Regions from separate parts of the Homo sapiens genome. Here region 2 is linked to region 1. Evidence: fine-mapped expression QTL. Tissue or cell type: blood mononuclear cells. Region 1 holds a variant in brackets; the other region holds the start of a gene. All regions are shown on one strand. Distances are from middle to middle.

What was found. PIP is the estimated chance that this variant, and not a neighbour inherited with it, causes the effect.
Region 2: it holds the start of LYG1, and the variant in region 1 is fine-mapped to the expression of LYG1 in blood mononuclear cells (TOPMed, PIP above 0.99). The same link has a PIP of 0.9 or more in ileum and whole blood.

What each region holds. Positions count from the first base shown.
Region 1 is chr2:99,457,026-99,462,233 of GRCh38, forward strand. The region is part of intron 3 of REV1 (REV1 DNA directed polymerase); the gene reads right to left. Among named protein-coding and RNA genes, the nearest start is that of REV1, 30 kb to the right of the region's middle. The variant C/T (reference allele first, on the strand shown) is at 2,317.
Region 2 is chr2:99,298,239-99,303,353 of GRCh38, forward strand. LYG1 (lysozyme g1) reads right to left here and starts at 2,959. Exons shown (of 7, transcript NM_174898.3): 1 at 2,812-2,959; 2 at 221-311. All of the region lies in intron 1 of LOC107985923 (a long non-coding RNA gene), which reads left to right.

The DNA of each region.
Region 1 (5,208 bases):
AGCTAAACATTTCGATTCCTTTATGAAGTATTCACTCCCACTCCCAAAGGCAATTGTTTCCTCTTCTGTGTTGGCACTCACCCTCCTCTGTTGATGTCTAAGGCTTAGAGATTACTTTTTCATCACAAAATCCACATTCTCCATCAACTGCTATCTCTTTTCAAACATAGTTCCTAACCCACAAGCAGCATCCAAAATATATCTGTTCAATCAACTAAAGAAAAATAAAATGGGATATAAGGTCTGTAAACTAGAAAACTCAACATAGTAAAGATGTCAATTCTCCCCGAACTGATCTACAGGTTTAATGTAATTCCTATCAAAATCCCAGCAAGGTATTTTGTGGATAAATGACTTATTTTAACATTTATATAGGTCAGGTGCACTGGCTCACACCTGTAATCCCAGCACTCTGGGAGGCCGAGGCAGGCAAATCACCTGAGGTCAGGAGTTCGAGACCAGCCTGGCCAACATGGCGAAACCCCATCTCTACTAAAAACACACAAAAAATGAGCTGGGCATCATGGCATGTGCCTGTAATCCCAGCTACTCGGGTAGCTGAGGTACAAGAATCGCTTGAGCCAGGGAGGCAGAGGGTGCGGTAAGCTGAGATCATACCACTGTACTCCAGCCTGGGTGACAAAGTGAGACCCTGTCTCAAGAAAAAAAAAAAAAAGAGAGAGAGAGGCGTAGGTCCTAGAATAGCCAGAATTATCTTGACAAAGAAGAAACAAGTGAAAGCAATCACTCTACCTGATATCAAGGCTTACCACATAGGTACAGTATTTGATATAGTGTGGTACTGGTGAAGGAACAGACACAAACATCAATGGAAGAGAACAGAGAACCCAGAAACAGATCCACCAAAATATGCCTAACTGACTGTGTTGCAACAACTGGAAATCCACAAATAAAAAAAAAAAATTGTAAAACCTCAAAATGAAACATTAACTTCAATGTAAAACATAAAACTATAAAATCTAAAAATATAGAAGAAAACATTTGGGATCTAGCACCAAAGTGACAAGTTCTTAGACTTGCAAGCACAATCCATAAAAGGAAAGATCAACATATCAGATCTCATCAAAATTAAAAACGTTCTGCAAAAGACCATTTCAAGAGGATGAAAAACTACAGACTGGGAGAAAATACCTGCAAACCACTTTTATGACAAAGCAGTAGTCTCTAGAATATATAATGAAATATCAAAACTAAACAGTAAAAAATACTAAATCCAATTAGAAAATGAGGAAAAAAATATGAACAAATGTTTCACCAATGATGATGTAAAGATAAGAAATAAACACATGAAAGAATGTTCAACATTATTAGCCACGAGGCAAATGCAAATTAAAATCACAAAGAGATACAACACCATCTATTAAAATGGATAAAATGAAAACCACTGAATGCTGGCAAGGATGCAAAGAAAGTTGATCCCTCATACAAGGCTAGTGGGAGTATAAAATACTACAACCACTTTGGGTAACAGTTTGGCAGTTTCTTACAAAAACTAAAGATGTAACTATTACGGGAACCAACAACTGTACTCTTCTTATACTCATACAAAAACTCATACACAAATGTTCATAGCCTACCAAGAAATAACTGTGATGTCCCTAACAGATGAAAGGTTAACAAACTGGTACATCCACACTATGAAATATAACTGAACAATAAAAAGGCAACAATTTTGATGACCTGACAGATAATTTATGCTCAGTGAAAAAAGCCAGCCCCAAAAGGTTATATGCTGTATGTTTTATTTATATAACATTCTTGAAATGACAAAATTATAAAAATGGAGACCAGATTAGTGGTTGCCAGGAGTTAAGGAAAGGCGGAGAACAGAAGTGGGTGTGACTATGAAAGAGTAACATGAAAGATCTTTGTAGTGTGGAGGCCGGGCGCGGTGGCTCACACCTGTAATCCCAGCACTTTGGGAGGCCAAGGTGGGCAGATCACGAGGTCAGGAGATCAAGACCATACTGGCTAACACGGTGAAACCCCGTCTCTACTAAAAATACAAAAAATTAGCCAGGCGTGGTGGTGGCCACCTGTAGTCCCAGCTACTCGGGAGGCTGAGGCAGGAGAATGGTGTGAACCCGGGAGGCAGAGCTTGCAGTGAGCCGAGATCGCGCCACTGCACTCCAGCCTGGGTGACAGAGTGAGACTCTGTCTCAAAAAAAAAAAAAGAAAGATCTTTGTAGTGTGGAAATGTTCTGTATATTAACTGTATCAGTATCAATTTCCCAGTTGTGACACTGTTTGCAAGTTTATTACATATTACCATTTGGGGAAACTGGGTAAAGGGTT[C/T]ACAGTATCACTATGTGCTATGTCTTACAACTGCATGTGAATCTACAATTATCTAAAAAAAAATTAATTTAAAAAATGGATAGGCCAGCCATGGTGGCCCATACATGTAATCTCCACACTTTGGGAGGCTGAGGCAGAAGAATCGCTTGAGCCTAGGAGTTTCAGATCAGCCTGGGAAACACAGCAAGACCTTGTCTCTACAAAAAATTAAAAAATCAGCTGGACATGGTGGTACACACTTGAGGTCCTAGCTACTTGGGAGCCTGAGGAGAGAGGATGGCTTGAACCTGGGATGTTGAAGCTGCAGTGAGCCGTGATAGTGCCACTGCACTACAGCCTGGGTGACAGAGGGAGACCCTATCTCAAAACAAAGAAACAAACAAAACAAACAAAAAGGATAGAAGGCAAAGAAGTCAATCTTAACAAGCAAAAAACATTTTTGGGGCCAGGTGAAGGGAAGAATAGGTTGACAGGTGAACTATTAGAGGGTCTTCCCTCCAAGTTCAAGTTCAATGTTAACTGGGTTGGAAGGTATAGGGACTACGAAATCATGAGAGGCTCAAATGGCTGAACTGGGAGCTTTAAAGGAATCAAGAACACTTGGATTATTACAGTTTGTGGGGAGCATGGTTAAGAATCAACAAGAAGGGACACCACAGCTTCTTTTACAGTGAAAACTGCATCTCCCAGGTTTGCAAACTGTTCACTGGAATGAAGTCTCTTTCCTCCAAATTCCTTTTCAGAGAACTTTCTATTTTCTTTTTTTCACTCTATCGCCAGGCTGGAGTGCAGTGGCGCAATCTCGGCTCACTTCAACCTCCGCCTCCCGGGTTCAAGTGATTCTCCTGCCTCAGCCTCCCGAGTAGCTGGGACTACAGGCGCACGTCACCACGCCCAGCTAATTTTTGTATTTTTAGTAGAGACAGGGTTTCACCATGTTGGCCAGGATGGTCTCGATCTCTTGACCTTGTGATCTGCCCGCCTCGGCCTCCCAAAGTGCTGGGATTGCAGGCGTGAGCCACCGTGCCTGGCCTGAAAACTTTCTTTCACAATAGCAATGAGCAAAACTGACAAAGTCTGCACCTTTGGTGCTTACATGCTAATGGAGAAGAAAGATGATACCAAAATATATATATAGGCATTTTACAAAATAGCTGACCAGTACTCCTCAAGACTGTGAAATAAAGCTTATTTTTTTAAATCAAAAACAAAATAGCACCTCCTACTTGTCTTATTACATCTAAAGAGTTATTTTTACTTGCTAATTGTTAATGCTGTTTTATCTATAAAGTGGTAAAGTATTCACTAAAACTTAATTTTTCTAAAAATAAAGTTATTTTACAGCACCACAGTTTGGATATCTCGGTGAAATTCAGCATAATGGAACTTTATTTGTACAGTTATAATGAAATCTTAATAACAAGAGCAAAAATATTATCATCTCTATCCTGCAGAAAAGGATAGAGATAATAACAGATCTAAACAGAAAATGTTTTACAGTCACACAAAAATTAGTGATAAAAGCAGATTTAGAATTCCAGATTCTCAATCAAAAAGTGATTACTGCAATATTCATTTTTCTTCCCTCACACAAAGAATCTCTTTTTCTTCCTCCTATGTGAATAAGGGTGCTCTCTTGAACTGGAGACTTCCATGACTGGCTAATGTAAGAAGCAATGCCTGTTTTCATTAACGTTTTAATTTTTCATAGAGCATCTCAGGAAGTCCACAGAGCTTGAATTTGTCAGGATACCTTCCTACACAGAAAAGTTACAAGCTTTCTGCATGTGAACTTCCCAATGCTGCACCAGCATTTATTTTGAGATGACATTCTTGGACTAAATTCATCATCAATGATGCCTAATAAAACACTTAATTACAAGCAACACACTCTTCTCTTACTAAACCAGATAAATGTACCAGTTAATTAATACTTAACTCCAATTCAACAAATATGTCCTGAATGATTGTGTCCAGTCACTGTAGAGGCACTAAGGATATAGTGATGAAAATGTAGCTCCAGCTCTTGTCCAGTAAACAGACAACTATGGAAAGGTCTGAAGAATTCTAAGATGCAGATTCATTCAGGGAGCCATAGCTCCAGAAGAGCACAAGAAGTCACCTAAATCAGTATGAAGACAGTCAAACTATCAAGGGAAAGCGAGGCATGGAGACCTGAAAGATAGCAGGTATCAGCCAGCTGAGAAGGGGACAGGGGAATATGTAACAGACTGACACAAATATTTACAGCCATTCACTTCAAAAAATACAATGAAATGATAAGAAGAAGAATCCCCAAGAAAATAGAGAAAAATTTAGGCAGAAAACCTGGTAACTAACAGGCAAGTGCTAACTGACTTTACAGTTCAGCGAAAGATAAAACTGAAGCTGGCCATATGGAAGCTTGGAAAGAAGCTGCTTGTTACCAGTAAAACAAAGAGAAAGTCATGAAATAAACACACAGGCACCTTCAAAAGTGGATGTGTGGATAAATTCATCCTTGAAACTGTGCAACAGGCAAAGAAGCATTTGCACATTTCTTTCCTTTCACCAAGAATAAAGACTACACTACCCCTTCCAGATACCGGACTCAATGACAATAGGCACAGCTGGTGGGGAGGAGGTAGGAATGAGAAAATGAATAGAGAGACTAAGTGAAATTTTACTTCCTAAACTGTGAGAATTCAGGTCCTTTCCTTCCCTGCTTGGCGACCCAAATGCTGGCAGTTTACACTCTTCTACAGACAAGAGAGTAAAAGATTCTTCTCTAGGAAATCTGACACTGACACACACCCACACACCACCCCACCCTAAAGGACCTATGGACAATGACATCTAGAGATTTACCAATGAAATGGACCTACAGTGAAGCTCACAGTTTACAAGTCCTAC
Region 2 (5,115 bases), 160 kb before region 1:
AGACCAAGGCAGCACAGTGGTCATGATGTCAAGCACAATGTTTATGGTAGCATCCCTCTTCTCCCTTCCCAGAGAGCAAAATAGTAACAAACAGCAAGGGGGTGTCAACAAGCTGGGGCAACAGGCCTGCCAGGCACACTGGAAACTGACAACCAGAGCATCCCTCAGGAGCTACCTCATGTTCCTGGTGGCTTTGATGGGGACATCTTCCTCTACTCACCCTCTCTCCACTGAGTACTTTGGAATTCCCAAAGCACTGTGTAAGTTTGTAAGGCATAATGGACCATGTCTTCTTCAGTTCATCAATTTTTCTAGAAAAGGTAGAAACAGGTATCTTTGGTCTTATGGTTTTCTCACCTTAGAAACTTTTCCATGAATGCTCTCAATCTTTACCTTGAACAGTATCATTGCAGGTCATTGGGGCCCTCCATCCAGCCCAGAAATGTGACGTATTAACACCTCAACGTGCCCAATGAAGGTGCCCCTGCCCCATTGTGGTGTCCCCATCTAATCCTGAGAGAACTGAGAACTCCTGTATGCATCCACATTAGGCATGGTCTCCTGCTCTAAGCTGTGTTGTCACCCTTGTTTATTGCTAACATGTCTCTGTGTCTACCTACTCATTGTGTGCCAACAGGCCTTTCTTTTTTTAATTTTTTAATTTTAATTTTAATTACTTTTTGTTTTGTTGGGTTTTGCTTTGTTTTGTTTGAGACAAAGTCTCACTCTGTCGCCCAGGCTGGAGTGCAGTGGTGCGATCTCAGCTCAATGCAACCTCCGCCTCTTGAATTCAAGTGATTATCTTGCCTCAGCCTCCTGAGTAGCTGAGACTACAGGCACTCCACGCCCAGCTAATTTTTGTATTTTTAGTAGAGATGGGGTTTCACCATGTTGGCCAGGCTGGTTGAGAACTCCTGACCTCAGGTGATCCACCCACCTCAGCCTCCCAAAATGCTGGGATCATAGGCATGAGCCACCGCGCCCAGCCCCTGGGTTTTTTTCTTTTTCTTTTCTTTTTGTTTTTTCTTTTTCTTTTTCTTTTTTTCTTTTTTTTTTTTTTTTAATCGAGACAAGGTCTCACTCTGTCTCCCAGGTGGGAGTGCAGTGGCCCAAAATTGTGGAATCATCTCACCATTATAAGCCTGTAAGAATGTCTCATTAGATTACTCTTTAATTTTTAAAATTGTTTTAATTTTTTTTTTTTCAAAACATAGTCTGACTGTCACCTAGGCTGGAGTGAAGTGCTGTGATCTCGGCTCACTGCACCCTCGACCTGCCTGAGCTCAGGTGATTCTCCTGCCTCAGCCTCCTGAGTAGCTGGGATTACAGCCCTGTGCCACCACGCCCAGCTAATTTTTGTATTTTTAGTAAAGACGGGGTTTCGCCATGTTGGCCAGGCTGGTCTCAAACTCCAGGGCTCAAGCAATCTGCCTGCCTCAGCCTCCCAAAGTGCTGGGAACCACCAACACCTGGCCTGTTTTAAAATTATTTTTAATTTTTTATTATTTTAACTTTTTAATTTTTTTAATTTTTGTTTTTTTAAAATTTTTAAATATTTATTTTATTCCATTTTTAAAATGTTTAAGTTTTTAAATTTCTTAAAGGCCTTACCAGTAGCATCATGTCGTACTCATCCTCTTCTTGCTATTCTAATCTTCTCCCTCCCTACATATATACACACACACGTACACACACACACGTACACACACACACATGCACGTACAGCAACACTCCAGCCCATTGCCTCACAGATTGCTATGCACCAACAGGCCTAAAATTAAAATAGTAATAGCAATGTAGTCACAAATATAAAATAATATAAAATTATTCTGCCACTAAGATCTTTTTTTTTTTGAGAAAAATACAACTTTTTAGAGCAAAAATATAGGGCAGCAACAGGAAGGCTCATTTTAAGCTGTTACGCTGCGTAGAGCTGCACCTTCACATGGCCTGTGAAAATACCTATTCACTGAATTTGGATTGTAATCAATAATTACCAGCCTAGAAGACCTCTGAAAGTTTGATCATTTTCTTCCCTCTGGGCAGGCAAATCTTCCCTGCATAGAGACACTGTGAGCTGGAAGGGAGTTCCTTCTCTCAGTGCGTCCTCTGTGCCTGCTTTTCCCATTTGCGTTTTTGAGAGTTCAGAACTCCAGGAAGGATCATCCTATGCTGGAGATTTCCCCGTGAACGTTTCCTTCTGCACAGAGCAAATCAGGGAGACTTGGCCCCTCTGTTCCGTCTATGGACTCTAGAGGCGTATCTGTCTTTTTAGTCTGTTAGCCGAGGCTGTTAGACATGTTGGCCTTAGTTCTTACACAGCTTGCAGAGAAAATAAGATTGTTATAGAACCAATACTCATGGTCTATGGGTTAATGTAGCATTGGCAAGACTGCCCATGAGGGCAGGCAAGGGATTTACCGTCTGGCAAAATACAAACACCTTAGTCTTTTGGCTTTCAGTTAACAAATATGACGTCGCATTTGGCCCTATTACAGCTACAGTTAAGTGCACACACATTTCTTTTCTCCCATTATTCGATTTGCACATGCTCACAAATCCAAAAGTAATGACATACTTGCATTAAAAGATATCTAAATTTTGATGAGTGTTGTAATGAACAGGAAAAATTATTCTATCATCTACAAATCTTTTCAAACTTGGGTTTTCTTTGCAAGGTCCTTAAGTTTCGCCTGAGTCCAATATTTCTTATGCAGCAGAGACACAATCATTGCCAACTGATCACCATACACTGGATTTTCATCCTCAATAAGCCCGAGTGTAAGATCCATGCCTCTGCTTCACACTCACCTGTCTTCAGTCAGTGCTCCTCCTTAGAGGTGGTGAGCCCACAGCGATTTATATAGAGTCCTGTTCTCTTGTTAAAAGTGTTCATCTCATCCTATTTTGGAGAGATTTATGACATCTCATAAATTATAATAATAATCATAATTATTATAAATACTCCGAACTTATATAGGGCCTTTTATTCGAGAATGTCCTGGCATTTTGCAAACATTAACCAATTTGTTTCTTGCCATACCTCAGAAGGCAGATCCTAGTTGTAGTTTAACTTTGACACATTGAGGTCCAACACTTGTCTTTATTCACATCATTTTCTGGGAATGTGGGTTAGGTAAGAAAACAAGGAAGGAAGAGAGAGAGAAAGAGAGAGAGAGTGAGAAGGAGAGAGAGAGTGAGAAGGGGAAGGGAGGAAGGGAAGAGGAAGGGAGGAAGGGAAGGAAGAAAGAAAAGGAAGAAGGAAGGAAGGAAGGGAGGGAGGGAATTGAACTTGGTGTGTCAGAAACTCATTATTGGTTTGTATTTCAGGTAAGCAGAGCGCCTAGACCAGGGGTTGGCAGCTTTTTCTTACAGACCCAGACAGGTTTTTGGGCTACGTGGTCTTTATAATGCCTCTGACATTGTAGCATGAGAGTGATCATAGATAATATTTAAATGAATGGCCAAGACTGTGTTCCAAAAAAAAAACTTTCTTTACTACACAGGTGGTGGCCCTAGGGCCGTAGGTTGCTGGCCCCTGTTCTGAACCACCGAGAGATACCAGTTCACATGTCCTCAGTTCAGCAATGTGGGGAGAGATGATCGGCTGGATGATGCTATTTTACAGACACCCAGGACCTACAGCGTGTTCCAAATGTCTACATCAATAAGTACTTTGAGAGGGTTCATATGAAGTTTCCAGGAAGGATTCTTTCCCAAGTTGTGGAAAGGGTGCATTTCATGACTGAAAGAGGGAGCCCCCTCCCTCACCACACCCTGTGCCCCAGCTCAGCTGAACAGCTTGATTTTCCCCAAACACAGCGCCATTCTTTGCACTAGGCATTCCTACAGGATCTTTCCTTTTTATCTAAACCCTCAGGGACAGGGGCTGTGTCTCATTCGTCTTTATAATACCAGCATGCAACACTCTGCATGATACATATTAGACACTCAGTAAAACACGTGGAATCAATGGCTTGCTTATCGGCTGACTGGTATACAGTCTGTTTCTTCTGCATCCCCTGCCTTAGCTCCCTCCCCATACCACAACTCAAACACAAGCTCCGTGAGAGCTGTGAATCTGGCTACTTCATTTATAAGACTGAGTCTTCAGTGCCCAGATAACAGCCTGGCACACTGTAAGTGTTCAGTAAATCTTTGTTGAATCAGTCAATGACTGAAGAATTCCTACAACCTCACCCAGCAAGATTTGGACTGGGCTTCCAATGCTGGGCCCCAGGTTAGACGTGTGTTCCTTGTGTTTCAAGCAACATGTGGATATTTCTACCATAGCACCTACAGCACTTTGGTTTGTTGTTGTCTTGAGAACAAAAACAAAGGCTTTTTTCTCCTGTATTCCTTATGGCACATAAGGGGTATTCAGTACATGTTTACGGAATGAGTAAATGAATGATTTAAAGCGTATTTATGACTTTTTGGAAGTCACTCACTCTGCATCCCCAGTGCAGACATTGAGGGTTAAGATTTTGTTATTCTCAGCCGGGCACAGAGCCTCACGTCTGTAATCCCAGCGCTTTGGGAGGCCGAGGCAGGTGGATCACTTGAGGTCAGGAGTTCGGACCAGCCTGGCCAACATGGCGAAACCCCATCTCTACTAAAAATACAAAAATTATCCAGGCATGGTGGCACACACCAGTAATCCCAGCTACTCGGGAGGCTGAGGCAGGAGAATCAGTTGAACCAAGAGGGAGAGGTTGCAGTAAGCCAAGATCATGCCAGTGTACTCCAGCCTGGGCCACAGAGCAAGCCTCCATCTGAAAAAAAAAAAAAAGAAGATTTTGTTTTTCTCTACTTGTGACTGAGATGGTGAGACCACAAGGCAGGGCACTGTGAGCAAGGGTCCAGATTTGGACACCCAGGGAGTTCCTGAACTTTAACTCTGGGAGGGGAGTGTGAGAACACTGGGTTCCTCTCGGTTGTTGGCAGAGTTGGGGTAAAAAGAGAACTAATGCACCCATTAAAAACTCTATCCTGACCCCCAAAATGGAACTCATCCATTTTATTTTTTCCACCAAGCTCTAGCACATACCAACAATTAAAAGGTATTACAGTGTGGGGAAATCTGGGGATGCCCAGCTCCACCTACAAAAGCAC